Regions from separate parts of the Homo sapiens genome. Here regions 2, 3, 4, 5, 6 and 7 are each reported to be linked to region 1. The links are microRNA targets in miRTarBase. Many come from high-throughput screens and were not tested one by one. Region 1 holds a microRNA gene; each other region holds the end of a gene's coding sequence.
The links. The annotated mature microRNA hsa-miR-1306-5p reads CCACCUCCCCUGCAAACGUCCA and lies in region 1 at 1,979-2,000, shown strand. An mRNA with a match to its seed (bases 2 to 7 or 8) in the 3' UTR can be bound and repressed. Matches are read on the target gene's strand: a 7mer-m8 pairs with bases 2 to 8, a 7mer-A1 pairs with bases 2 to 7 and ends in A, and an 8mer does both.

Region 2: miRTarBase lists DIAPH1 as a target of hsa-miR-1306-5p. Seed matches in the 3' UTR shown: 7mer-m8 at 2,475-2,481.
Region 3: miRTarBase lists IFNE as a target of hsa-miR-1306-5p. The part of its 3' UTR that is shown has no 7-base or 8-base seed match.
Region 4: the mRNA of KLHL7 is a reported target of hsa-miR-1306-5p. Seed matches in the 3' UTR shown: 7mer-m8 at 2,514-2,520.
Region 5: the mRNA of ARFGEF3 is a reported target of hsa-miR-1306-5p. Seed matches in the 3' UTR shown: 7mer-A1 at 2,940-2,946.
Region 6: miRTarBase lists TLNRD1 as a target of hsa-miR-1306-5p. Seed matches in the 3' UTR shown: 7mer-m8 at 1,828-1,834.
Region 7: the mRNA of LMTK2 is a reported target of hsa-miR-1306-5p. Seed matches in the 3' UTR shown: 7mer-A1 at 3,189-3,195.

The regions. Positions count from the first base shown.
Region 1 is chr22:20,084,094-20,088,093 of GRCh38, forward strand. MIR1306 (microRNA 1306) reads left to right here and starts at 1,965; the gene lies at 1,965-2,049. It overlaps DGCR8 (DGCR8 microprocessor complex subunit), which reads left to right. Exons shown (of 14, transcript NM_022720.7): 2 at 1,594-2,590; 3 at 3,069-3,228. The coding sequence starts at 1,871. MIR3618 (microRNA 3618) reads left to right here and starts at 1,653; the gene lies at 1,653-1,740.
Region 2 is chr5:141,513,504-141,517,581 of GRCh38, forward strand. It overlaps DIAPH1 (diaphanous related formin 1), which reads right to left. Exons shown (of 28, transcript NM_005219.5): 28 at 1,518-3,505. The coding sequence ends at 3,348. LOC124901091 (a long non-coding RNA gene) reads left to right here and starts at 3,505. Exons shown (of 2, transcript XR_007058971.1): 1 at 3,505-4,078. RefSeq lists enhancers at 31-656, 202-321, 657-1,282, 1,062-1,311, 1,283-1,908 and 2 more.
Region 3 is chr9:21,477,762-21,481,839 of GRCh38, reverse strand. It overlaps IFNE (interferon epsilon), which reads left to right. Exons shown (of 1, transcript NM_176891.5): 1 at 1-1,001. The coding sequence starts at 146. The coding sequence ends at 772. The region is part of intron 1 of MIR31HG (MIR31 host gene); the gene reads left to right. Among named protein-coding and RNA genes, the nearest start is that of IFNE, 2.5 kb to the left of the region's middle.
Region 4 is chr7:23,173,945-23,178,022 of GRCh38, forward strand. It overlaps KLHL7 (kelch like family member 7), which reads left to right. Exons shown (of 11, transcript NM_001031710.3): 11 at 71-3,970. The coding sequence ends at 354. Among named protein-coding and RNA genes, the nearest start is that of NUP42, 6.1 kb to the right of the region's middle.
Region 5 is chr6:138,335,894-138,339,971 of GRCh38, reverse strand. It overlaps ARFGEF3 (ARFGEF family member 3), which reads right to left. Exons shown (of 34, transcript NM_020340.5): 34 at 1-3,677. The coding sequence ends at 3,486. Among named protein-coding and RNA genes, the nearest start is that of SMIM28, 40 kb to the left of the region's middle.
Region 6 is chr15:81,003,087-81,007,164 of GRCh38, reverse strand. It overlaps TLNRD1 (talin rod domain containing 1), which reads right to left. Exons shown (of 1, transcript NM_022566.3): 1 at 1,377-4,078. The coding sequence ends at 3,805. Among named protein-coding and RNA genes, the nearest start is that of TLNRD1, 4.2 kb to the right of the region's middle. RefSeq lists an enhancer at 3,567-4,078.
Region 7 is chr7:98,204,733-98,208,810 of GRCh38, reverse strand. It overlaps LMTK2 (lemur tyrosine kinase 2), which reads right to left. Exons shown (of 14, transcript NM_014916.4): 14 at 1-3,347. The coding sequence ends at 3,319. Among named protein-coding and RNA genes, the nearest start is that of BHLHA15, 4.7 kb to the left of the region's middle.

The DNA.
Region 1 (4,000 bases):
GTCCATATAGTGCGTTCCTCGGAGTAGATGGCCAGTGGATAGTTGTTAAATGTATTGATTAAACCTAAACTAGTCTCTGGTTTTCATGTTGTGTCCCCTTCGAAGTACATCCACCATGCCTTGTCCCTTGTTAAATGTGTGATGTCTGCATCTCCTGTTCTTTCCGGGAATCTTGGGAGGATGTTAGGTCATGCAGTGCGGTTTGCATGTGTGCATCTTTACTGGTATGCACGCATGTGCATGCATGCGTGTTCCTGTGCACGTTGTGGGAGTGTGCATGTGCGTGTGTCTGCATGTGTTCCTTCTGCTCTGATGCAGGGTTTTCTGGCTGCCCCCTCAGACCCATCTTCCCTGCTTCATGTTGTCCCTTTCTTCATGCTTCCTCTGTAGTAAGGCTTCCTAGAGTTGCATCCTTAACCCTCATCTCTGGGTGGCCTTCCTCCTGTGGGTTTGGCGACTACCTCCTCAGTGCGTCCTGGCCTTCCGTATCTGGACCAGTCATGGCTCCAGAGTTGTGGCCTCGGCACCTTCAGAGCCTGCCTGGAGGTCCCCTCTGTTCTCCTCGCCAGGCTCCTGCCTGCATGCTGGAATTTGGGTGTCCTTCCTTGTCTTTAGTTCCCTCTTTTCTCTGCTATCCACCTCCGTTGGGTCAACAAGTGCGGTCAGTTCTGTGACACTGTTCTTGGCCCATTGCCAGGGCCTCTTTCACACCTTTGTCCTCTGGCCTGGAGGACTGTCCCCGTGCCTTGGATGCAGTTGCTTCTGCCTGGCACAGCTGTGGGTCTCCCCTCTCAAGTAGGAACCTACTTGTGGCATGAGAGTCGCTTCACCTTCAGTGGCTCCTTATTGTCCCCAGGGCGGAACGGGCTGCAGGTGGCACCCAGGCCTCTCTGTGCCTCGGCTCCAGCTGTCTCTTGTGGCTCCCCACCCCAAATCCTGGCAGGTCCCTTCCCCACAGCCACCCACCCCTCTCCTCCATCGGGAACAGAACTATGCTGCCACCTCTGGTGACCTCAGCACGCTGCATCACTGTCCCCGTCCACGTGCTACCCTGTGGGCCCAGGAGAGCCCTGGGGTCCCTGGGTAGCAGAGCGCCTGGCCATGCCTCTGAGGCCCCTAGTGCCGCAGAGTTGAGCTGAGGGTCTCGCGCTCGCCCTCTGACTGACCCAGCCCTTGCAGGTGAGTGGATTGCTGTGCTCTGGTGGCCTGAGGGAGGCCACGCGCCTTCTGTGTGTTCCAGAAAGGGTGCCTCCCACTGCATGCTTGCTTATCTGAGTTAGAAGAATGCTGTGGTGGAGTTTAGTGTAAATTTTTAAAATATTTTTTGAGCCTTATGATTATATAGTTTTTGTGTTTCTGAAGTAGGAATTAAAGTGGGCATTAACAAAATATTTAACTTTGGACTTAAGTTATAATTCAGGTTCTGAAGAATAAAAGTAAGGTTAGTTTGTTTTGATGCCTAAAAAGTCCTCTTAGGGAATATTATTTTGAAGCCCTTTACTATGCTGTTAATAGTGCTTGGCTTTTAACTTGGTACCAGGGAATTGGAAGGTTTCTGTCATTTTGTGACGATATTTTTAAATTTCTTTGCAGGTAGAAGAAGAAAGGTGCCACTCCGGCATGAAGACAGACTCGCTTAGTCGCCAGTCACTTAAGCTGAGTGCATTGTGATTTCCAATAATTGAGGCAGTGGTTCTAAAAGCTGTCTACATTAATGAAAAGAGCAATGTGGCCAGCTTGACTAAGCCGCCAGCGCACAGCGCGGCAGGACGCGCCCGGGTCTCAGCGGACTTGTGCATGTTAGCTGTGTAGATTTATGTGAGGGCTTGTAAAACTCTGGTCTTGTAAACTAGTCTTAAGCGCTTTTAATATGGAGACAGATGAGAGCCCCTCTCCGCTCCCGTGTGGGCCCGCAGGAGAAGCGGTGATGGAGAGCCGAGCTCGCCCCTTCCAAGCGCTGCCCCGTGAGCAGTCTCCACCACCTCCCCTGCAAACGTCCAGTGGTGCAGAGGTAATGGACGTTGGCTCTGGTGGTGATGGACAGTCCGAACTCCCTGCTGAGGACCCCTTCAACTTCTACGGAGCTTCTCTTCTCTCCAAAGGATCCTTCTCTAAGGGCCGCCTCCTCATAGACCCGAACTGTAGTGGCCACAGCCCGCGCACCGCCCGGCACGCACCTGCGGTCCGGAAGTTCTCCCCTGACCTTAAGTTGCTTAAGGATGTAAAGATTAGCGTGAGCTTTACCGAGAGCTGCAGGAGTAAGGACAGGAAGGTGCTGTACACAGGAGCAGAGCGCGACGTGCGGGCGGAGTGCGGTCTGCTCCTTAGCCCTGTCAGTGGGGACGTGCATGCTTGTCCCTTTGGCGGGAGTGTTGGTGACGGGGTAGGCATAGGGGGTGAGAGTGCTGATAAGAAGGATGAGGAGAATGAGCTGGATCAGGAAAAGAGAGTGGAGTATGCAGTGCTCGATGAGTTAGAAGATTTTACTGACAATTTGGAGCTAGATGAAGAAGGAGCAGGCGGGTTCACGGCTAAAGCAATCGTTCAGAGAGACAGAGTGGATGAAGAGGCCTTGAATTTCCCCTACGAGGTATGTTGGCAGCCCCTCCTCTAGAGGGCTCTTAGCAAAACCCAAAGAGAGATTTGGGAATTGCAGCATCTTTTGAAAGCAGGGAAATTAAAAAAAAAAAAAACAAAAACCAAAATCCCCTCTGAGGTGGAATAATGTTAATGTGGAGAAGAGAAAGATGTAAGGAGTCCAGATTTTTAAAGTTTCCTAATGAAAAGTTTGGCCCATGGGTAGGCCCTGCATCCCTGATCTAGCGCGTGGGGCAGCAGGTGCTGCTGAGTTACGCTCCTTGGCAGTGTGTGCCCCTGGACCAGGTGTGTTGGTGTCAGCTGGTAGCTTCATCCTGTTTGTTTTTCAGATGATCATGCACCCTAAGGGCACATCTAGGCCCCCTGAGAGCACCTCCTTTCTGTGTCTGTTCTCAGGAATGCTGTTGAGCTCTCCTGTTGCAGGAGCATGAGCGCCAGGGGCTCTGGTGTCTGAACAGCGTGTTTTGCAGGATGACTTTGACAACGATGTGGATGCTCTGCTGGAAGAAGGCCTTTGTGCCCCCAAAAAGAGGCGAACAGAGGAAAAATATGGCGGAGACAGCGACCATCCGTCCGATGGAGAGACAAGTGTGCAGCCGATGATGACCAAGATTAAAACAGTGCTCAAAAGTACGTGTGTGGGTCAGAAGCAGTGGGTGTTCCAGGGCAGTGGAGGGGTGGTTGCTTCCTTAGCAGAAATGCTTTGAGAGAGCTCTGGTGCCAGGTAGTGGGCTGGGTGGAGGCATGTTTGAGGACAGGACAGAAATATCTGAGGAGGGAAACACAGGATGGGAGGACGTCCTGATGCATGACCCAGATGCGGATCCTGGTGTGTGCTATGGAAACCACAGAGCAGCAGGCACTGTGCAGAGGAATGGGAGGGGACTTCTGAGGGGGTCAGGAGGGGATGTTGGTATATGCCAGGAGCCAGCATGACCATCAGCTGGAGGGTGTGGAGACCAAGGGCAAGGTGGGTACACAGTGAGATGGCAGGTGATAGTTGTGATCCAGGTTCTAGTCCTGGACCAAGTGTCACAGGAAGCCACCAGAAGCAAGTGGTGTTACCTGATTTTTGTTTAACAACATGGCTTCTGGGCCACAGCATGGTGTGTGCACTTCAGCTGGGCAGGGTGGAAGTGCCCTGGTCGACGTGGCACTTCCTCAACTTTGAGTTGAGGGTAGTGGGGAGAGCACTTGAGAGGCGCCCAGAGTTGCACTGTGAGGCTCTGTCATCGATGTGGTGCAGGTGTTGGGGGAGTCGGAGTTGGTGGCTTGGAGGCACCTATGAGGGTCCTGGTGGAGATGTGGGGCTCGGTAGAGGGACTGAAGAGATGCACGGGGACTCAGGCTCACAGGTGAGACCCCAGGCTGAGGGCTGGGGTGCACAAGGTGGCAGGGTGCG
Region 2 (4,078 bases), not on the chromosome of region 1:
TTGGGAAAGCCGCGGGAGTGGGAGGGAATGCGGGAGGTGATTCTTCCAAAGCCAAGTCTGCAGCTCGAGCCTCAGTTTCCCCATCTGGAATTCGCCTTCCCGCTGACATCTCCGTAGCGAAGCCTAAGAAATTGGAGGGCTCATCCTCTTCTTGCGGGGGTCAAGGGGACTGAAAGGACGTGCAGGAAATGAGATCCATCGCAGACTCAGCTCCCCTCCCTCCTTCCTGTCGGTGCTTTTCCACTCACTCGCCTGCTCTCCCATCTCCCCGCCCCCTCCGCCTGCCTCCTCGAAGCACTGTGGGATTCCGAGGTTGCTGCAGCCAGAGAAGCTGCAGAAAAACACGGAGCTGGGGGTGAAGGGGGACTTAAAAGGGGAACTACCCGGAAGGACCCAAGAACACAAAGACAGAGCCACTGCGGTTATCTGGCTGGTCAGCAAGGGTATGCGGCTTCCTCCGCGCTGCGGAGGCTCCCAGAGCCAGGTCACCCATTCTGCCAGCTCAAGTCTGTTGTCATGGGAACCAAACCTTCCAACTTAAGAATCTGGGGGCGACTTTCTAGCGTGGGAGGAAGGGTGGTGTGCACGGTTGCTGAGATGGAAGCAGGGTTTTGTTACTCAGAGCCAGGCTGCGGAGGGGCGGGGTGCCGGGCGCCTGGGTTCTATTCCAGGCACAGCAGCAGACTGGCAGAGCGCGTGAGCAGCTGTGGTTTGTCCCCTAATTGGTATGTGTGCCTATAAAGCTCTGAACCAGAAAGGCGTGGCCTCCGGGGGGACGGGAGGGAGGCGGCAGGCAACCCATCCCCACACCTCAGGCCATACTGAGGAGGCAGCTGCCCAGGCTCCAGGGCTATTTAAAAGGCTTTTATTTCCAGTTCCAGAGCCCGCCCGAATGGGTTTGTGGTCCTCTCCAGGCCTCTCCCTGTCTATCCTGGGCCTGCTCATTGCTGGTCTGGCTTTTTTGTGCAGGTCATAACGTGCTCAGACAAGTATGGCTCCAAGTGGCAAGTCATCTGGAGCATGACCTCAGGCTCCCAACCTCTGCTGGGCAGGCTCAGGTTTCCACCCCAGGGTAAACCCCTCTACTCTGGAATGTGGTCTGTGGCCACCAACAGAGCAGAGGGGATGAGAAAATGGGAGCCAGATGCTTCCCTCAGCAAGAGACACAGGTACTGCCAGGAAACCTTGCGTGACATCTGGGAACATGAAAGGTTCCAAGTGAGTTCCAAAAAAGGGCTCCAAACCAAGTAGCAGCAATGTGGAAGAGTCAGGGAGCTGAACCAGGCGCCCACTCCTTTACTGTGGCCAAACGGCCCTGAGGTGAGCTCTGGTGGGGCAGCAGCCACCATGTATTAATCATCTCTAGCCCTGTGCCCAAGTAAAGTGTCTGGCACCTTTAGCTTTTTCACAGTGATTTGTCAGGTCAACCAGGGATTTGAGGCAGGAAAGACTAGAGGAGCCTGGACTAGAGTGAAAAGAAAACAGCTCAGAAATTCACACAGGAAGCTGTAAGGCAGTACTGTTTCAATGCTTTATTAACAGTTGGAAACAAAACCAACAAACTGGAGGTGATGACATCCCAGAAGCCTATGAGGCAAGGGAAATAGGTTTGCATTTTGTCCCTCACACCTCTCTCTCTCTCTCTTTTTTTTTATTAAATGCATCTTAGCAAAAGTAGATTAAAAAAGAAAGGGTCAAAGCCCCAGATGTCAGCGAGCAGGGAGGAGGTGACCCAGGGGAGCAACAGACGCCCTGCATCAGAGTCCTCCCAGGAATAGTCCAAAGGAGCTGCTCTTGCCCCTTTATACACAAGCGCCAGCAACCAAAACCCTCCCTCCTGGCAATAAGGCCTCACTATAGTTGCCCTCATGCTTCCTAAGCTCTCTCTTGCTCTAATAACTCTAATTCTGGGCCAAGCCCAAGAGTGCCATTCTTTCTTCCTAGCTGGGGATGGAAAGCTGAGAGGGGCACAAGGAGGGCAAAAGTATCACCCTAAGCCAGAGAATTGCAGCTTCCTGTGGTTGGGGCCACCAAACAGTTCAGTGTGCCCACCCACTTCTCTTTTAGAAGAGAGCTGGGGTACAGTGTATGAAGGCACTCCTGGTGCCCAGTTCCCCAGAATGTCCAGTTAGCATCTGCACATTTGGCTTGATACATTTATACATTTATAAAAAACTCTGTGGTCTTAGAGTTCCTGCTACTCTTAGGCCTGGCCCAGCTCAACCAGAGAAGGGGTTCCTCCTGTGTCGGATTCCCTGGGAGAGAGGATCTGCCTTGGACTCAAGGGTCCAGAAGGTCCAGGGGCACATTCAGGATTGGGCCTGTGAGAAGAAATCCCAGAACTCTGTAACCTGCCACCAAAGCTTCTTACATTATGGAGGGGAAAGGGGGAAGGAACAGTTTTCTTTAAAAAAATTTTTTTTTTCATACAAAAATAGATCCATTTGCAAAACAATTTCTCAGCCAGGAGGCTCCACCTCCCATTTCCTTGTAGACAGAGGGTGAGGTGTTGGGATGGTCACAGTACAACCCATAGTCCAGATGAGATGCACCAAAGCTCAGGGAAGGCATGAGGAGGGAAGGTGGCTCAGTAGCCTGGGGTTGGTGCAGAGCGTCCAGAGAGGCAAGGGCATAAAGCGTGGCAGAAGCTGGGGGCAGGTCCCACACTGTCGCTATGCCCTGCCTGCCTGCCCACAGGCTCTGGCCTGGGCCACAGCACAGCAGGGAAACTGGTCCAGATCCTTTGCTTTGGAGGCCTTTCCCAGGAAGGTGGGGTAAAGGTGGGATTTGCTCCCTGCTTCCTTAGGAGCAGCTCCCAGTGCCACACCACTAATAATAAATAACCACAGCCAGGAGAGGGAAGAGCAGAGACAACAGCAATGAAAGGAGGGATCTAGCCCAAAGGTTTACAAGCCCCATGCTATTCTCAGGGCCAGAGAAACCACAAAAGAAAAGCACAAATCCAGCAAGACTGACCTAGGGGGGAAAGCCCATTAGAAAGTCAGGGCTGAGAAAAAGCAGGCTGGGCCTTGTCTGAGATGAGGCCCTCTGAGTAACAGAGAGGAGACAGGGTTAAGGCAGCAAACATGGACCCTGCTTTGGTAATACAACAGCCAGGGCTGGCTAAGTCGGGCTCAGGCCTCCCCTGCACTGCCCTTTCCTTCTGGCCTCCAGGCAGCTGAAGCTGTATGTGATGTTGAGAGAGCAGCAGGCCAGAGAGAAAGACAGGGTCAGGGTGGTGGGAGTGGCCACCCCAGAGGAATATCCCCTTGAGCCTTTAGGCACATGCTGCAGGGCAGGACAGTCTGCGGCTCCGCTGAGGAGCTGCCGCGGTCACAGGACCCACATTAGCTTGCACGGCCAACCAACTCCTTGGCTTCCTCAAGGATTGTGGGGAATGTCTCACTGTTCTTGGACACCTTGGCAGGAACAGCAGCCATGGCATCATCCTTGGTCAGCTCCGAAGCTAGCAGAGATGTGACTGCACACCCGGCCTTCCTGTTGGCTGCAAGAGAAGACGAGAGATTCTGTCTATGGAAGGCCTCATTTCTAATTTCTTTCAAACTCTACAGCAGATAATCAGCGTAAGCCATGCAGACATGACTACCTTGGCCACTTCACAGAGGCCCTTACTTTGAAGAAAGGGGCAGAGATCCAGCATGTGGAATATATTGTTGGGTGGCAAAGAATGTAAGAGAGTGTGGTGCAACAGGAAAGCAAGCCTTGCCCCCTTGCTTCCCTGTGTGAAAACAGCACAAAAGTTTGAACACAGACAGACAGAACTGGGCTGAAGTGTTAGCTATGTGACTTAAGGAGAGATGAAGTATTCAAAGTCTATTTTCTCGTAATAGGGATGTTGGAATTAAATAGACTAAAGTTTAGTACATAGTATTATTTTTGTTTTCTTGACAGGTCCCAGGAAACTCCTAGGCCAAAACACTTCTCAGTCAGCCCTGGGAGGGTTGTCCCTAGCAGAAGGCAACCTTCCGTAAGTGGCTGGAGAGACTCCCGCAAAGAGGAACAGCAGCCACGCACTGACACCGCACTCCCACGTGTTCCTCCAACAACAGATGCCCAC
Region 3 (4,078 bases), not on the chromosome of region 1:
AACTTGGAGAAATGACATTAGAAAACGAAAGCAACAAAAGAGAACACTCTCCAAAATAATCTGAGATGCATGAAAGGCAAACATTCACTAGAGCTGGAATTTCCCTAAGTCTATGCAGGGATAAGTAGCATATTTGACCTTCACCATGATTATCAAGCACTTCTTTGGAACTGTGTTGGTGCTGCTGGCCTCTACCACTATCTTCTCTCTAGATTTGAAACTGATTATCTTCCAGCAAAGACAAGTGAATCAAGAAAGTTTAAAACTCTTGAATAAGTTGCAAACCTTGTCAATTCAGCAGTGTCTACCACACAGGAAAAACTTTCTGCTTCCTCAGAAGTCTTTGAGTCCTCAGCAGTACCAAAAAGGACACACTCTGGCCATTCTCCATGAGATGCTTCAGCAGATCTTCAGCCTCTTCAGGGCAAATATTTCTCTGGATGGTTGGGAGGAAAACCACACGGAGAAATTCCTCATTCAACTTCATCAACAGCTAGAATACCTAGAAGCACTCATGGGACTGGAAGCAGAGAAGCTAAGTGGTACTTTGGGTAGTGATAACCTTAGATTACAAGTTAAAATGTACTTCCGAAGGATCCATGATTACCTGGAAAACCAGGACTACAGCACCTGTGCCTGGGCCATTGTCCAAGTAGAAATCAGCCGATGTCTGTTCTTTGTGTTCAGTCTCACAGAAAAACTGAGCAAACAAGGAAGACCCTTGAACGACATGAAGCAAGAGCTTACTACAGAGTTTAGAAGCCCGAGGTAGGTGGAGGGACTAGAGGACTTCTCCAGACATGATTCTTCATAGAGTGGTAATACAATTTATAGTACAATCACATTGCTTTGATTTTGTGTATATATATATTTATCTGTGTTTTAAGATTGTGCATATTGACCACAATTGTTTTTATTTTGTAATGTGGCTTTATATATTCTATCCATTTTAAATTGTTTGTATGTCAAAATAAATTCATTAATATGGTTGATTCTTCAAATGGGTGTATTTTCATACAGGCTGGCTGGGTAGATACAATAAAATATGCCACTAATGTAAAAATACTTTCCTTAACATAGAACTCCATTGCAATGATTTGCTTATTTGCCAGAAATTGCTAGAGACAATGAGAAATATTGGGAATAATTTGCATTTTAAGATTTGAAAATATTATTACACAGTGAATATTTACATTACAGGAGACACAATAGAAATATGGTGAAAGGACATGAACAGTTTGCAGAGAAAAAAAACTACATTAAAAGAGGTTCAATCTCACTCATGATAATAGAAATACAAATTAAATAGCATGCATGCCATTTATAGTACAACCACTATGGAGGCAATTAGGTGATATCTATTACAGATGCATGTAGCCTTTCATCTATAAATTCTAGGCCTGGAAATGTGTCCTATAAAAATACTTGCCCACAGCTGGGCGTGGTGGCTCAGGCCTGTAATCCTAGCACTTTGGGAGGCTGAGGAGGGTGGATCACAAGGTCAGGAGTTCGAGACCAGCCTGGCCAATATGGTGAAACCCTGTCTCTACTAAAAATACAAAAATTAGCCGGGCATGGTGGCGGGCACCTGTAGTCCCAGCTACTCGGAAGGCTGAGGCAAGAGAATCACCTGAACCTGGGAGGTGGAGGTTGCAGTGAGCCGAGATCATGCCACTGCACTCCAGCCTGGGCAACAGAGTGAGACTCTATCTCAAAACAAAACAAAACAACAACAACCACAACAACAAAAACTTGCCCACGTGTGAAATAACTTACAAACAATATTATTCTCTGCAGCACTATTAGTAATACCAAAAGTCAAGAAACCATCTCGATTTTCCTAATTAGAGACAGTTGAGGCATATTCATATAAAGGAACACTATTCAGCTGGAGAAACAAATGAGACGGTATTTCTTTTTAAAAAGTTGAAAATAGGCAAGATACAGAGCAGTGTACATAAAATGCTACATTTGGGGTGAAAATGTTAAATAAAACTTACGTTTGTCCTTACTGTGTATAAATAAAGAATAAGAAATAAATTACAATGATTACCTGTATTTAGGAGAAGAAGGAAGACTGAAGAAGGAGATTAGGGTGGGAGAGATTTTATAGCTCCTCTAAAAATTTTTATATTAAATTGTGTGAATATTACATATTAAGATAATAATTTAAAATGTATCTAACGAGTCACAGTTATCAGAAATATGCATGAGGGAGTCTGGCTGGTGAAGGTCAAAAGGAACAGGAGACTGAATTAGCCTGCCCCTGGTTGGGATGTCTGCTTGGAGGAGGGCTGGAGAGAAGCACACCCGTGCCAAGGGAGAGGGTTCCTGCTCCTGGGAGATGCCAGTGATGGAGGGATTCCAGCTCTTCTAGCCAGGAACTCTCAGAAGTCACCACGGAACAACGTGGGGGCAGAGAAACTAAAGTTGAGGCTTGGTGGCTATCCCACTTTCGTCCACTGTAAGGGAGCAGAGCCACAGCCCAAAACTCTGATGCTAGTTCTACTACCATGTGTCATGTTCTACGTCAGATGCATTGCATAATTGGAGGTAAAAGTTAGTAGTAAATGTAAAAACTTAGGAACGAAGCATACTCCAGTTCAGTTTAATTAATGCAAATGAGTAATGGCTGCTACTTTAGACTTGGTTTGAAAGGGAAGAGTAGGAACCGAATAGGATCCTGAAAGTGAGACAGTCACCTGCAATAGTGAAGAAGGGTAAGGAAGCAGAGGCTGTCAATCAGAAGCAAGTCTTTGCTGACTTCACATTGCAGCCAGGGGTTGATCTGTTTACCTTCAAATTCACACAAAGGTAGTGAAGTGGAGGAAGGAGAAATACCACAAGGAACTGCAAATATAAGTTACTTTTCTTCTCATGGTCTAGAAAATTTTTTGTTGTTCTTTAAACCAGGAAGTTTTTGGAACCAAATCCTTCATTTAACACATTATCCAATTTTCAAATTGACCTTACCAAGTGCCTTCTGTAATTATTTTTTTCTCAAGTGAGAACAAGACTGTAAAGGTGAAATAACATGCTCAAAGTAATGTAGCAAGCCACAGAGCTTGCAGATACCAGAGCAAAGATCTTATCCCAAGTCAGCCTGACTCAAAAGCCTGCACTGTGTTGTTGACAACTCAAACCTGAATAGCATTGTGAAATATCACTGCAAAATAATAATAACAATAATAATAATTTTCTCCTAGCTTTCTTTATTCAAGTTTACAATGGTCTCTGAAGTCTTGAATTAAAGAAAAGATATTTTCCTTTCTCTTGACATTGCTTCCTTAAGAACTGAGAACAGAATGGAGGAACTGTCAAATGGAAACGTTTAGAAAATAATACTCATATTTAGAAGTTTAAACTAATACTTTATATACTAATGTTTTCCCAAACATTTAGGTTTATTAAGTTGATATCCTGTTGTATAACCACCTCAATGCCTAGCACAAAATAAAAAATTGTTACTTCTAAATATGTGTGCCCTTTTAAAACTCCAAAACCAGAGTTCTAAACTTGGGAATATTGGGAAGGAGAGACGTATTAAAAGATTGGACTCCTGGCTTAGTAGCACATGGAAAGGCTTGGAGTATGGGTAGGTTCATTTGTATTTGCAGGCTGAGTTATATTTTTGTTACATCTATATGTATTGAGCTAAACAAATCATTAAATCCAAAAGCAGGTTACAAAATAATAACAGCATCATCATATTTTCTACAAATAAAACATTCATGAAAAGTATATGAAAAGAAATGCATGAAAATGTTCATAGTACTACTGTCTTTGGGATAGAATTTACATTCACTTAAACTTTTTGGATTAAATATTTCTCCCATGAATAAGGATTCCTTTTAGAACCAGGAAAAAAAAATTATTATATTTTTGAAATTTAAAAAAAGAACAGGCTGGGTGCAGTAGCTCATGCCTGTAATCCCAGCACTTCGGGAGGCCAAGGCAGGCAGATTGCTTGAGCCCAGGAGTGTGAGATCAGCCTAAGCAACATGGTGAGATCCCATCTCTACTTTAAAAATTAAAAACAACTCTTGTAAAGGGCACCTGCTGTAAGTTAAGTCCCACC
Region 4 (4,078 bases), not on the chromosome of region 1:
TTATTACTTTAAGAAACCTTAGAATTGTTGATATAGTTTTTCATGTTGTTCATGTTTTATTCTTTTGAAGGTGGTCTGGACAATGTGGAATATTACGATATTAAGTTGAACGAATGGAAGATGGTCTCACCAATGCCATGGAAGGGTGTAACAGTGAAATGTGCAGCAGTTGGCTCTATAGTTTATGTCTTGGCTGGTTTTCAGGGTGTTGGTCGATTAGGACACATTCTCGAATATAATACCGAAACAGACAAATGGGTTGCCAACTCCAAAGTTCGTGCTTTTCCAGTCACAAGTTGTTTAATTTGTGTTGTCGATACTTGTGGAGCAAATGAAGAGACCCTTGAAACATGAAAAATGAGTGGACTTCAGACTCATCAGAGACTCTAAAATATAGCCACCAGTGCTTTGTTCCAGGAGTTTGGTGACAAAGTTTTGGTTTGGTGTTTTGGTAAAGAAAGTTTCAAGTGAAATGAGGTTCCTATAAAATAGATGTTTCTTTTATATGGATTTCCTTAATTCAAAGATCATATTTTAGCTGGCCACAAAACCAAGAACATATCTAGCAAGAAAACTTGAAAAAGTATAAGCATTTGTTAAAAATGTGAATTTCTTGAATGAATTTCACATTTGTAACTATGATTTTGGCAGAATAGAAGATTGGCTCATCAGTGAAGCGCAGTATCTTAGCTCTAGATTCTATTTTCATGCATCACAGAAGTGCTATACGGTTAGGTCTGTTTGTGCTCAGTCAAGAACTAAGAAATAGTATGAATTGTAAGTCAAGATGGGCAACTCAGATGGAGCAGCTTAGTCTCACAGTTTGCTTGTCTATTTATTTTATTTAGTGCCAAATGTATTCCATTTTAAAAGTAAGCCAGAGTGAGTCAAGGCATATACACACTTTCTCACAAAACTTCCTAAACAGATTTGGGGGTTTAATATGTCCAACTCCTCATGAAATATATTCAATCCACTTAAATATATTCCATCTTTTTAACATAAAATGTAAAGCTTAGCACCCATCATTAATTTATGTCTCTGTTTTATCCAGTGGTTAAAAAAGGATTCTGCCTCTTTAGTCCTCACTGTTAAATAAAACCCAATCATAGTAAGTGATTAACTAGCAAAAAGTAAAGCTATTTATAGCAAATTTCTAGATCATTAGAAAAGCACTGGTAGTTGTACAATATCAGTGTTGACTTTGAACTTCTTTAACGAGATCATGAATTCTTTTCCCTTAGCCAAAACATGAAATATTTAACCTAGTTGTCTCTAAAAGTTTTGTAATCATGAGTTAGATATATGTCATCTCCTATTCATTGCTTTTATGTGATCAATAAATCTTTTACAAACCCAACTACTCATTTCCTTCCTAGTAATACTTTGCCTTTTTCACTGTGTATGGAATGAAACATGTAAAGCTGTCACAATCAATGTTTTTATCTGATAATATTAAATATTTTTTAACTTAAAATAGGCCACTCAGTTTGTTCTTCAAGTATTTTAGGTAATGGTTGTTTTTAGAATTTGTGAACCAGTGTCTCTTAATTTTCAGTTTTCTTTATATAGAGGTTATAATAGTCTTAAACCCTAAAAATGTTTAAATCAAAAAGGAATTAGGAAAAACATAATGATAGGTATATTTCTATTTGTGTAGGGTTTTTTAATGTACAGCTTTATTGAGATATAATTCACATACCATACAATTCACCATTTAAAGTATACTATTCAGGCCAGGCACAGTGGCTCACGCCTGTAATCCCAGCACTTTGGGAGGCCAAGGTGGGTAGATCATTTGAGGTCAGCAGTTCAAGACCACCCTGGCCAACATGATGAGACCCCGTCTCTACTAAAAATACAAAAATTAGCCAGGCCTGGTGGTGTGCACTTGTAATCCCAGCTATTCAGGAGACTGAGGCAGGAGGATTGCTTGAACCTGACAGGCAGAGGTTGCAGTGAGCTGAGATCAAGCCACTGCACCCCAGCCTGGGCAACAGAGCAAGACTAAAAAAAAAAAAAAAAAAAAAAAAATGTATTATTCAGTGGTTTTTAATATATCCACAGAGTTACGCAACCATCACCACAATTTTAGAACATTTTCATCACCCCAAAAAGAAACCTTGTACTGATTAGCAATGGTTCCCTATTTCCCCCAACGCCCCTGTATTTCCTAGGGCTACCATAACAAACTACTGCAAACTTGGTGGCTTTAAAGAACAGAAATTTATTCTCTCACAATTCAGGAAGCCAGCACTCCTAAATCAAGTTGTCAGCAGGGTTAGTTCCTTCTGGAGGGTCTGCAGCAGAAACCACACATGCCTCTCCCCTAGCTTCTGGTGGTTGCCAGCAATCCTCAGCATTCTTTGGCTTGTAGCTGCAGCACTTCAGTCTCTGTCTCTGTCTTCGCATGGGCTTTTTCCCTGTGTGTCTCTGTATCTTCACATGGTGTTCTTATAAGGACAACATAGGAGCCAGACACAGTGGCTCAGGCCGGTAATTTCAACACTTTGGGAGGTGGAGGCAGTAGGATCACTTGAGGCTAGGAGTTCAAGACCCTGTCTCTACAAAAAAATAAAAAGTTAGCAGGTGTGGTATATACCTGCAGTTCTAGCTACTCAGAAGGCTGAGGTGGGAGGATCACTTGAGCCCAGGAGTTCAAGGATGTAGTGAGCTATGATTGTGCCACTGCACTCCAGCCTGGGTGACAGACTGAGACCCTGTCTCATTAAAAAAAAAAAAAAAAAAGCTGGGCGCTGTGTCTCACGCCCTTAATCCCAGCACTTTGGGAGGCCGAGGCGGGTGGATTACCTGAGGTCAGGAGTTTGAGACCAGCCTGGACAACATGCCAAAACCCCGTCTCTACTAAAAATACAAAAATTAGCCAGGTATGGTGGTGTGCACCTGTAGTCCCAGCTACTCAGGAGGCTGAGGTAGGAGAATTGCTTGAACCTGGGAGGCAGAGGTTGCAGTGAGCTGAGATTGCGCCACTTCATTCCAGCCTGGGTGACAGAGCAAGACACCTTCTCAAAGCAAAATACAAACAAAAAAAGGACAACATAGGGCCCGCAATCCAGTATGACCTTATTTTAATTACACCTGTAAAGACCCCATTTCCAAACGAGGACACATTCTGAGCTTCTGGATAGACATGAATTTGGGGAGATGCTGTTCAACACAGAAAACCTCCCAAACACCATAGCCCTAGGCAACCACTAATCTACTTTCTGTCTCTAGATTTGATTATTCTGAACATTTTTAGTAGGGTTTTCAATTTTGCACTCTATTGAAAAATGTGGCTAGTTTAATTTTTTGAGAGTGAAATATCCATTTATTATATTACAATATAGCTATATAATTTGACAATCTCCTATGTAGAATATACAGTACCTGTCTAAGATATTTTAAGTACACCAGCATTTCCTTTTAGGCTATGTCAATTGACTAGAACACACTATAGTAAATACATACACAGGTTTGATGTGGATTATAATGAAGTGGTTTTTTTCCTTAGTAATCTGTATCATAATTCCCAATTAGTGTCTTTTTCTGCCTTGGAAATTTCTACAGAATTGTCAATATCAGGATAGTGCGTAAAAGTACACTCACCATACTGACAAGCACATTTTCTATTTTGTTGCCCAAAACTCCCTGTCCTGTAAAGTGCTCTGCTTGCTTTTTAGTAGACATTTGATAAGTTAATGTTATATCCTTTGCAATGATATTATTTTGATGACAAAGTAAGTTTATGCTTTCAAAAATCACAATTCGGTCAGAAAAGTTTAGCATCTTAAAAAAATTGTTGCTATTTGAAAAAAACAAAACAAAACATATACTTGTGACTTTGTGGTCCAGCTGGCAAAAACTTGACATATCATCCCATGAAAATTTTAAGTCATGAATTATTTTGACATGACAATATTGCTAACAAAATCAAAATCAGCCGTTTAATAAACAATTATTCCACCAAGCAGTCTATATTCCTTTTGCCATATATACTGTTAACAGCAAAAATTTTGGATTTGCTACATATGCATGGGTAAAGGAGGTATTTAGACGAAATTTTGCTTTCTAAGGT
Region 5 (4,078 bases), not on the chromosome of region 1:
AGGAATGAGCCATCACGCCTGATTTAAAGTATTTTAATGCGAGCTGTTAAGTATGTTAGCATCTGCCTGGGTTCTTATCGGTCAGTCATTACATAGACCCCAAATCATAAAGGTGTTCTAGTTTTATATCTATGGGGAAGGCTGGAAAATTACCACAAGGGGAGAGAGAGAAGGTGGTGTAAAAAGGCAGCCTAACTAACTATTTTTAAAAGCAGATCAGGAGATACAGGAGCTAGGTGAGATGCTGTGGACAGTGCATGAGGTTCAATTGTGAAAACCGATGTCCTCATTAATGACAGAGAGAACTCTGTCCCTCCATATACTTGGCTGGGCCATCATCAGTCCAGGGTCTCTTATACTTGGAGTTTTCCAGATGTTTGTTTCATGAAGCACACTTTACCAAAATTTAGGAAAAGAAGAGAAAGATCTCAACTTTAAGGTAATATACTTTTGGCTATAAATACAGGCAACTAAAAACAATGTATAAACTCTCATTCTGCTTAGGTCTGTAAATACATGCTAATAACTGTTCGTAACTTTAAAAGGCTGCCTTGAATTTTGTCTTACTGTTGCTGCAAAAGAGACTGTGAGGAGAGAAACACCTGACACTTTCAGAGACTGGGAGGGAGGGAAACAAAGTTGGGGGAGTGGGCAGCTGAGTCACAGGAACAGGGCAAGAGACTGAGCTGGGCAGCCTGGGAAGGTGCCACTCCCCTCTCAGTGTTCTTCATCTCCTCCCTTTCTTCTCCACCTGCTGGGAAGAACCACCTGAATGCCTACTCATTAGAGACTACTTTGCATCAAGCTGCAAATACCTCTGAGAAGTACTGCTGTCACTCAGTGATGGTTCTGGTTGAAATCTGATGTCAGTGTGGATGGCTGGTAACTCGAGTGCAGAGTATGTTAGGACTGAGTTATAGAGAAGACAATGGGAAGGTACCAAAACACTCTTAAAAAATTGTAGGTCAAGAGCTCTGTACACCTACTCATCCTTTTATTCTTGGGACCCATAATCAGGCTAGAACTAGAACAGTGTTTGGACACAGTACAGGGTAAACTTATGTTCAAGAATTTTGGATCCCATAATAGAGCATCGGGGAGAATGCTGATTTCCAAACAAACAACTAACATACTTTGGGATACAGTATTCACTTTTTTTTTTTTTTTTTTTTAGATGGAGTTTCACTCTTGTCACCCAGTCTGGAGTGCAATGGTGCAATCTTGGCTCACTGCAACGTCCGCCTCCTGGGTTCGAGCGATTCTCCTGTCTCGGCCTCCTAAGTAGCTGGGATTACAGGTGCATCCTACCACACCTGGCTAATTTTTGTATTTTTAGTAGAGACGAGGTTTCACCATGTTGTCCAGCCTGGTCTCAAACTCCTGACCGCAGGTTATCTGCCCACCTTGGCCTCCCAAAGTAAGTGCTGGGATTACAGGCGTGAGCCACCGTGCCCAGCTGGTATTCTCAAATTGAGACAGCTTCCTTTGAATTTTTCTACTTTATGAAAAGTTGCTATGTATAAATACTGTAATTCTAGCCTCTGCTTTACTGAAGCCTTTTCCCCCAGTAAACTGTGGAGTACTCACAGGTTCACAAAGAAGAACTGAACCTCAGGTAAGCTATAAAAAGAAACAAAGCAACTGTGGTGTTACTTCTGTTGGAAAATTTAAAAAAAGCAGTTATCCAACTTTCAATTCCATTTATAAAATGTAAAAATTCAAAAGTATACAACATAGTTCACTGATATCCCAACAATTCATTGCCTTTTAAGATCAAATAGCTGATTACCTGTTTCTAAACTTGAATTATTGTCTAGTGAGTAAAAACTGAAGGCAAACAGAGTGTTTTGTGGAACTGGGAAAAAAATGGATTCTGTGGTGATCTCTAGATGGTACACTGGATGATAAGGGTGTTTTTTTCAGATCACCTAAAGAAGTCAGAACACTGCCTTCCTCTTAACCTCTAAGGTAGTTCCATATTTCTCAAGGAGGGCAAAGTTTACAAATACCCCTTTAAATCCTTATTTCAATACTGTAGAATTTGTGTCTTATATTTAAAGGGTGACTTATTCATTATGAATGGGGCTGGGAGATTATAATGTATGCCTTAAATAACTCTGTAGAATGTGTGTAAGTAAGCTTGATTGAGGAGTTTTCAATCATTAGGATAATGTAAGAAATATAAAAATACTGTAAATAATAAGATAAAGCTTTCAAACGTATTTTCTAGTAATACTTAGAAATATCCACCTGAAATATTGGTCTGAATGCAAAGACATCAAACATAGGGTAACTTTACTTGGTAGATAGGAGAAATATTTTAAATCGACAAAATTTTCTAAATTTCAGTGTCTTTCTCCATTACTTTCATTTTGAGACTAGAGCTTGTGTAACTGACACCATAATTTTGCAAGATTGTTGTATTATATTTTAAGATTGAAAATGATTTCATCATAATCCATCCCCACCCCACACTCCCTGCTCCCTTCCCTGAGTCCCTTTCCTCCAAGCGTGTTGATATAAAATGAGTTGCGTCTTAATGTTTTGTTTTCTTAAAAACCAAATGCTATACCTTATGTTCAGACAATTGTGGGGCATGGAAATGGAAGTGCAACAAAGGACTAAGGCACCTTTTCTTCTTTCCTTTCCTTTCCTTGTTTGCCTTGGGGATGGAAACAAACACCACAAGAACAGCCAGGGTGGCTGGTCGGTCTTATGTCTCTTGACAATCTACGTACCAGCCACTTTCACTGGGTACTCTGTGTCACAGGCTGATAAGCCACAGACTTCAAACCCTGCTAGGAAAGAACTTTCTTCTTTTAGAAATACAGAAATAAAGGTACAACACAGTACCTTACATGGGGAAATTGGTGAATACCTGAAAATCTTAATGATTTAGGAATAATTTTGAAGTGTTCTGGATTATTTTACAACAGAAGTCACCTCTTTCTTGATTATGACACCCAAGAATATGTATTTATAGTTGTCTTCTTCCCAGCCAGACCCATAACCATAAATCTTCCTCCAATTAATAATCCCTGGTACTAGATGTCTGAGTGTTTATCAGCTTGACTTACCAGCAGATATTGCCTTAGGAATTGTATTTATTTTTTAAATGATGGATCAAATGGATCAATATAGTGTTTTCAAATGAGTAATCCTTGAAAATGACCCATTTGGGGACAACACTGTAAGCAAAAGCACTGGGAAATATACTTCAAGAGTTAGAAACATATCAAGGATTATAGATTCTTCTATAATAATGTGCAAAATCAGAATATCGTTTGTGTCATCTAGATACAAACCTTAGTATGGCCCCAATGCTGATCAGTGGTTGGAAAGGCTTTTTACATTAGGAAACACTGTTCTCTGAGACAGTAGTAGTAGTTTAAGTGGGGCTAGTGGTGGGGAAAATGCAACAGCTGTATTGGCAGGACTCTAACCCTCACTACTGTTATTTGGTGGGAGAGTAGAACAGGAGTCGGCTACACAATGATGTCATAGACACGGCCCACCCTGCCCAGCCACTCCCTCACAGCCTGGCGAACTCTGATGTCGGTCACGTGACAGGTCAGCTGACTGATGCACGGGAACACTGCGGGCTGGAGGGCCGTGAAGGTCTGGTCTGGGAGAATCTGAATCTGATTGAGAACTGTTAGCACCATGTTGGTCCATGCCTAAGAGAAAAGATTTAAGAAAATCAGTGGCTTTCCCCCCTGGTTTTATTTGAACACTTGAGAGTGGCCCTGCCAATGTGGAAATGGTTTTTTTCCAGGCTTTAGTTGCAATAAATTAGTTTTCACTCATTTAATATGCCTATAATAAATTGTAGGCGTATTAATTTATTATGCCTACATCATAACTTCACATACATAAAGATGGGCAGAGACTCGCCTTATTTTCAGCTTTCACAAACTACTAAACTCTTACTTATTCCTTAGATTTAAAAACAACAACAACAACAAACCTCCCTTGCCTTCTCACAGTGAGATCTCCACAGGCCGTTAATCTCAAACTCATTTTTTGATGCACCATAGAATTACACTCAAAGCCTCCCTGAAGAATGAGAATTTTTATG
Region 6 (4,078 bases), not on the chromosome of region 1:
AGACAAGAATTTGCCAGGGAGGAACACAAATACCTGTGCCCACACTGGAAACTCAGAGATGGTCTCCTTAAAGCCTCTTCCAGTTGATGCAAACCACAAGGCAGCCCAGGGAACAGTCCCAGGTGAAAATGCTACTAAATCTTTAAGGATTTCTTCTCTAAATCCTTCCACGTTCACTCAGCAAAGCTCAGAAAGAATTTTGGCAGTCATTTTTCAAATCCTCTGCCTGATCTGCATGTTACCATAGTCACATTCATTCGGAAAAACAGGTGTTTCTGTTAAAATTAGCTGTTCCAAACTGCCAAATATTTTAAATCCCCATGCCAGCTTTAAAAAAAAAAAAAAAAAAAAAAGTTAGGGCGCGGTGGCTCACGCCTGTAACCCCAGCACTTGGGAGGCCGAGGCGGGTGGATCACGAGGTCAGGAGATCAAGACCATCCTGGCTAACACGGTGAAACCCCGTCTCTACTAAAAATACAAAAAAAAAAAAAAAAAAATTAGCCAGGCGTGGTGGCGGGCACCTGCAGTCCCAGCTACTAGGGAGGCTGAGGCAGGAGAATGGCATGAACCCGGGAGGTGGAGCTTGCAGTGAGCCGAGATCCCACCCTGGGCGACAGAGTGAGACTCCCTCTCAAAAAAAAAAAAAAGTGTGTGTAAAATAACCAATCAGATGAGGATGGTGGGGGTGCGGAAGAAAGCAAATACACACACATAATTTTTGTGTTTCCTAACATCACCCATAAATGCTATGCTTAAAACAGGCAAAGAAAGATGGAGTTGTGCTTTTTTCTGGTTAAGTCTTATGTTTGAAAGACTGTTTTTGTTCCATTTACTGAGTTGACTATCATAAATAATGTCTTTTGTTCAAAGAACTTAGCAATCATGATTTCCTTTTCTCATGACCATTCAAAGGAAGAAGGTTCTCAACATTCCCTGGTCAAGATGATGCACATTAAGCCTGTGTAAGAAAACTTGCCCTCAGGAGTCAGAAGAACCCAAGGATTAATGTCTTAAATTAACCCTAGTTTAAAAATTAAAAAGCAAACAAAAAAAACAGGCCACTCTGATTTTATTCCTGGAACCAGTATCTCTGCTGACCTTATTAAACCCTATTATGAAATAGGTCTGAGACGCTGCTTTTTTTAAACATCAGGGGCTATTTAAAAAACAAGTTTAGCAACCTGGGACATTAGAGAAAAGTTAAAATGTCAAAGACCTGTGCCCAATCCCCTTGCCTAGCATTCCTCACTCTGGCTTCTTGAAATCTGCTAGAAAAAAAGTACAAGCAGAATTCACTTCAAGACACCTGCTGGAAGAAAAGCCCTGAACTTTATGTTATAAATGGGAGGTGGGGGGTGCAGGAGCAGTGAAAACGCTTAAGTTTAGAACTTTAATCAACTTCAGAGAACAGAGATTATGCATGTTACATGACCAAACGTAGAGCATAAAGAAACACCAAGAGCAGCTATCATTTAGGTAAGAGGTTTCAAAATTCACTTAGTGACTAGCTAGTTAACTTCATCCAAACAGATAGGGAAAGTGATTTTCTTTTTTTTAATTGGCTTGAGTTGTCCTGAAAATCGCTTCTGCAAGGAAAGAGTCCAGGAAAAAACTGGCAATTCTTTTTTTCTTAATCTAATACCAAATTTACAGATTTCTGGCCCTTATTTTACTTAGCGTTTGTTCCTTTCAGTTTACTCTTTGTGATCTGCATAGGATAAATGAAAATGAACCATATAATCAAACTCCATCATTACTTGTGTACATTCAATAAATAAAAATTTCTATATGCATGCAGGATTGTCACTGGCACATGAATTAGAATCCCACCTCCCTTTCATCCTGAACCCCATCCCAACATTAAGGGGCAGAGGAAAGGAATAAAGATGCTCAAGGTCATTTTCATCTTTTAAAGTCTTCAAAAACCCGAAGTTTACCAGGATTTAACAGAGAAAAACTGCTCCCATGGTCATTTTTTTAAAAATTTAAGTACCCTACCACTTTAAGACTTTTTCAAATTTCAAATTCAGGGTGGTGAAACAGTCCTACCCTTACCCAACACAGGTTAAAGACTTTTACACGTTGTATTTCATGTCATTGTAATAAAAACAGCGATTCAAACAAGTAAAATAGTCAATATGACTTTTTTCTCTCTCTCTTAATGTATTACAGTGAAAAATGCTTTCTTTTCAGATCTGTGGGAACTGCAAAGGTTTAAGCACAACAAATCCCAAGAAAAATGTAAATGGAACAAATCTAAACCACGTACGAGTTTTTACTCATGTGGCTCTCCCAGGCTTCAGGCACTGTAAATAGATTTGTTGTGCTTTTAGTGGGAAGATATTCAGAATTTAACTAGGTTCAACAAAACTATACACTCCACCACCACTCACACAAAAAGACTCCTAAAAATGTCTGCAGAAAAGACAAACTACCTTAATATTACTCCAAATTCCAATCAAAGATTCTTCCAACATACAATCAACCATGGCATTATCTTAGATCAAGGTCACAAAAACAAGCCCTTGGCCTACAATCATGTTGTGGCTCTAGAACGTTCTTAACAAGCTTTCCAGGATACTTCTTTCCTCTATTAAGCAGTCTAGGACCCTCTCTATATTTTTTCTGAAATCATGAGGATCTTGTCTGAATAGACCTGTGTACATAAAAGATGCTAACTATTCTCACTTGATGTACAGTACTTTTAGAGTTCCATCCAGAGACTCTGAGTTGGGAAGGCTGGCATACCACACAGGATTAGGATTTAATCTGAAAATGATAGGCAGAATACAAATCAGAATTCAAGCAGCCTGAGCCACTGTTCATGATGATGGAAAGGTAAGTGGAGACAAAGGGAGCTAAATCACTTTCCAGGAAAAATGAGACAAAACCGTCCCAAGCACTCTACATAACCCAATCCCATTTGTGTCACCTGCCTTTTAAAATAGAACGTTACACATAGTCCTCTCTTCAGTTCCAGGCTGCTCAAGGGAGTACTTCTTGAGCAGTACTTTTTCTTGAGGAAATAGTAGAAAGGGCTGGGAATTGGGGGCCCGCCTCACTACTATTGAAATAGCCTTCCCACAGACCCTTCCCATACATGACATGCAGCATGCAAAATTACAATTATTGAAAAATCAACAATAATTGCAAAAAGCCATCTGAGAAACATAACATTTTAATAGATGAAATAAATACTCCAGTACATGCAAGGTAAAAACTTGACGTTGGGGGAAAAAAAAATCACTCTATAGTGTAAATTAAAAAAACACACGCTCACAGTAGCTTCCCCCCATTTGCAAATCACATGGCAAATTCATACTCTTTCCACACCAAGTATACTCCTAATTCAACACGATTGCTTAAAAAAAAAAAAGACATACAAAAAAAGGTAGCTACATCCATGTCTAAGGAGTGAAAACTGAGGTAACCTTTCTTTTAATTAAAAACACAAAAAACAAAAATGAAATGAACCCATGACCTCCTTCCTGCCCAATAATGAAATTTAGTTGAGAAATTCCGGAAGACGGGCTGGGGTAGGGGGTGGGAGTGATAACACAACCAGCAGATGACATATCTTCCAGTCCCTACTGCATGGGGGCTGGTGGAGAGACACCTGGGCCCTCCAAGTGCGTGTGCAGGTTGCGTGCATGGCCCTGCCTTGTGGAAGATTCCTCTCGAGCATTTAACGTTGGGGAGGGTAGGGGGTTTCACCTATGATTTCTTTGGTATAAATGGAGAGGGGCAGAGAGTAAGTATCTTCCTTTAGTCTGGGGGTGGAAGAAGGGGTATGGGGGTGGGGTGCTAATTCACAGAATTGGAATTCACTGGCGGTAAAGTCCTGGGCGAAGACCTCTCCCTTAAAGCCTGAGATAGCAGGGTGCAGCCTTCAGACACGGCGCAGGCCGAGTTCCTCAGCCTCTCCCTGTGGTCCGACATCTTGGCGCCCCCGTCGGGGTGCTGCGCCAGATCCCTGAGGCACTGGGTCAGGAGCACGCAGGCCGACACCACGCTCATGGCGCCGCCCAGGATGGCGGTCTGCACCGCCTTGCCCTCGGCGCTCACAGCTGCCGCGCGA
Region 7 (4,078 bases), not on the chromosome of region 1:
AGAACGAACGTTGTTTGCAATTCGGCTTGGTCGAGCTTTCTGCACCCTTACGGTGAATGGCTTCTCGTCCACACACACAGGCCAAGTCTCAGAAGGATGTGGGGAGCACTTTTTCTGGGTTGCCCTTTCTGGCTTATTGACAGGGTCATTCAAAAAGACAAATTCGCATCTAGCTAGTAAGGAAATGAAAACTAGATTATTTTTGTTATAGGATTTAAAATGTACAAACTCCACCAAAACAGGACTAATTCAGATTGATTCTGGGTTGCTACCCCATAGAAGGCCAGAAAATATTCTAACCTTCCCCCACATTATCTAGAGAATGCCACTGATTTAGTTCATTGTACAACTTATTAGAACAAGTACATTTTGAAAACCCACCACTGATAACCAACTTATTAGTTAAAAAATAACAAAACAAACAACAAAAACCTGAACTGAACACAGCACATGCTGACATTTCAAAAATGGGCTGCAATTTTTATTCTACTTAAATTTCCTGTGTATTGCTTGGATTTCAAAAAAACATGTTAACCCACGTGTTGATTATAAATATAAAATCTCGCCCCTCCATGCAACACCACACTAAGATCCACTACCCCCCAACTCAATGTATAAAATGCTTTTTTGGCAATTAATTATGAGTGACTCAAAATAAATAAAAATGGGAATTATGTTATGAAAAAAATTGTTTTTTTTTTTGAGACAGGGTCTGGCTGTTACCCAGGCTAGAGTACAGTGGCATGGTCTCAGCTCACTGCAACACCCATCTCCTGGGCTCTAGCCATCCTCCCACCTCAGCCTCCCAAGCAGCTGGGACTACAGGTGCACACCACTATGTGCCCCAGCTAGTATATATATATATATATATATTTTGTATTTTTAGTAGAGACGAGGTTTCGCCATGTTGCCCAGGCTGGTCTTGAACTCCTGGGCTCAAAGTGATCCGTCCGCCTCGACCCCCCAATGTGTTGGGATTGCAGGCGTGAGCCACCGCGCCCGGCCAAAATCTTAATCCTAGTGGAAAACTGACAGCCCCAAAAGGTTAATAAATGTACTCGAGGCTGACACTGTATAAGACGACGACAGATTCCATGATCTGTATGACTTTGGTCATTAAATCTGAACTCCTTAAACCTGCAATTGAAAAAGTAGTATAATCACGTCTCATTTCTCTTCAGCCAAGACTAATCTTAGATGTAAAAACTGAGAAAACTCAGGAAGTCCCCACAGCAAGAATTCAGAGTCATGACAATTTTGGCAAAATCATCTTCTAATGCCCTGTTAATTAAAAAAAAAAAAAAAATTCGCGCATCCCGAGACAGTGGTGCTCCCCACATAGCCCAGGTGGGCACCGCATCCACCCCATGCCTACACAGGAGGGGACTCTCTCCATCCTGAACTTCTTGCTTTGGAAAGTTATTGCTTAGTATAAAAAATGAGAGGAGTAGGGTGGAACTGGCAATGAAGGTCATTTGCTGCGCACTCTCTGGCAACGTCCGCCTGCATTTTGCACTAGGACTCAACTTCCTTCCGTGTACCCCAGGCGGCCCCTGCACGGGTCTGGAGAGCACCCCAGGTTGCGCTGGAGTCTGGAAACATATCAGCACCGGAAAATATGTTGGGTGAAGGGTGAGTATGAGGGGACTGCAGGCCCAAGGACCCCCGAAGGAACGGCTGCCTCCCCAGCACAGCACAGCCGCGCTGCACCAGCCACCGAGGACTTCCTTATGTCAGAGCAGAACTCAGGGAGGGAGGTGTGAGGTCGCCCATGACCACAGGGGCTCGTGACGATGTGACGAAGCTACACTGGGAGCACTCGGGCCCTTTCAAAGCCAGAAGAGAACCTGGGGCTTAATGCAGAACGGAGGGTCCGTGAGATGAGTCCCGGGCCATGCAGGACCACCCAAGGCCCCGACCCGAACTATGTGTCGGCTGCTGATGCTCTGCCGTCGGCCGTCGTCCCTTGTCCATCCCCCTTCACAGCTGCAGGATGTGGTGTTATCTCATCCCACATGGATAACCACAGACTGGCCAGGCCCAGCTGGACGTGACGTGGAGTGGCTCGGAGGAGAAGATTCGGCTGTGGAGGTTTTTTTAAAGCTCAAGTCCCCACCACCTGAAGTGTGCACACATCATCAAGTCGAACGGTCCCCCACGGCTGGTATGCTCTGCGGAGATGAGTCTGCCTGAGTTCCCCGGCTTCTTGAAGGAAGGACTGACAGGAACACGGAAGCTTCCCAGCAGCCTGGCCTCCGAAAACCAGGCAGAAGAGCTGCGCGGAGGGAAGCGGTGCGGTGCCCCGTGCAGGGTGCAGCTCTCTGGACCTGCCACGCCAGCACGTCCCCAGGGATGGGCCGGGTCCATCTGAGGTCTGCGGCCACAACCTGTTGGTTTTTACCAAAAGGGCTTTAAAAAATGGGATGTGGGGTGGGAGAATGACAAGGAGAGGCTGCAAGACCTCTCAGCTCCTCAGAGAGAAGCCTCATTTGCTGCGGCAAAGCCGCTTCATCAAGAAGAGACAAAAATGCATTCAAGTCCATCAACAAAACAGTGGTATTTTGGACTCAATGAAAATATTTCCTATATGAACATAAAACACTAACATTCAGAATCATTTATCATTTATGAAAGAGTACCATATGTACAATCCCAACAATCCTAGACACAGTAGAACACTCAAAATATTTAAGCTTCACAAGTACCATGCAGCGCAAACTATAAAACAGAAAAAAAATCAAACTAGTGGCTAGCATCGGCTTGACCTGCCTCATTCCCCTCGAATAACTGAAGATCCTGTACAACAATGGAGACTCTCGGAACATTTATCCACAGTGCAATTACAGAAAGCAGTTCGTGATTTCTCTAGAAATAATAAATATGGCTCACTGGTGACCATTCCCCTCACGTGTCCTCTGTGGTGCCCACACGTGCGCCGGGATGTGCAGGCGTGGACGCAGAGACGCCCCTGTGGAAAGCACACATGCGGTGCACACAGCTCCACACGCGCGCGCACATGGAGGCTGTGCCCCTGCCTCCCCCGACGGCCAGCGCATGAGCACTGCCTGGGAGGCCGCGGCCGCGGGTGCACGGGGCACTGAGGGACGCCGGCTCCTGGACACGGCCTCGCTCTGCACCTGGGCTCCCGAGGGCCCCGCCTTGAACGCAGCTAAGAGCCGTCTCCCTCTTCACCTCTGGATTCTTCCTCCCAATCTCATGTCAGCAAATGGCGAGTGGATGTCGCTGCTCGGGCTGAGGGCGCAGGGGCGCCGCTCCAGGGGAGCAGCCTCGGACCCGAGCGTGCGCGTTGGCAGCCACCTAGTCCTTTTCTCCGTCTTCGCTGCTTCCTGTTGAGGAGAGAGGAAGCGAGACGACAAAGCTGGGTTTTTAAAATGATCAGACAGGCATGGCGTGGATGGCATGTGCGCTGCACCACAGGAACGGAAGCGGGTGTTTTGAGCCCAGCACCGCCTGAGCCGCCCTTCCTGTCCTTTCCTTCGGAAGCAGCCCCTGCCTGACTCTCCCACATCTGCTAGGCTCAAATGCCCGCTGGGCGCTAAGGGTCAGGGTGCAGAAGAAGTCAGCTGGGATCCACACATCTGCCCCGACAGACTGGCAGATAGCAGGTGTTATCTAATCGGCACAAATGAAGCCTAGCGCCGAGGGAAATAAAGCCTCTTTGTATTCCATATTTATTATTTGATCTGTAAACTTCCAATCAAAAAATGAGCCTATTAACCTTTATCTTTCAATCTAGTGACGGGGAAAGAAGGCTCCCTATGTTCAGATACCTCGACTTCAAATGGCCCCTGCCCATTCACCCCACCCCGCCCTCGGGAGCCACACCAGGACCAAGACTCAGCAGCAAAACCAACATTCCAGGGGCAGCACCAGAGGGCATGTGGGCTGGTCCCAAGTCCAGGGGTCAAGTGCTCTTACGAGCCTGCTGAAGAGCAGGTTCTCTCTGGGAAAGGAGGAGACAGAGTGCGGAGGAGGGACTATGCAGCCACAGGAGAAAAAGAGGAGATGGCGCGCAGCCTGGGCGTTCCTGGGACCCAGAGCCCCTCTGCCTCAGCCT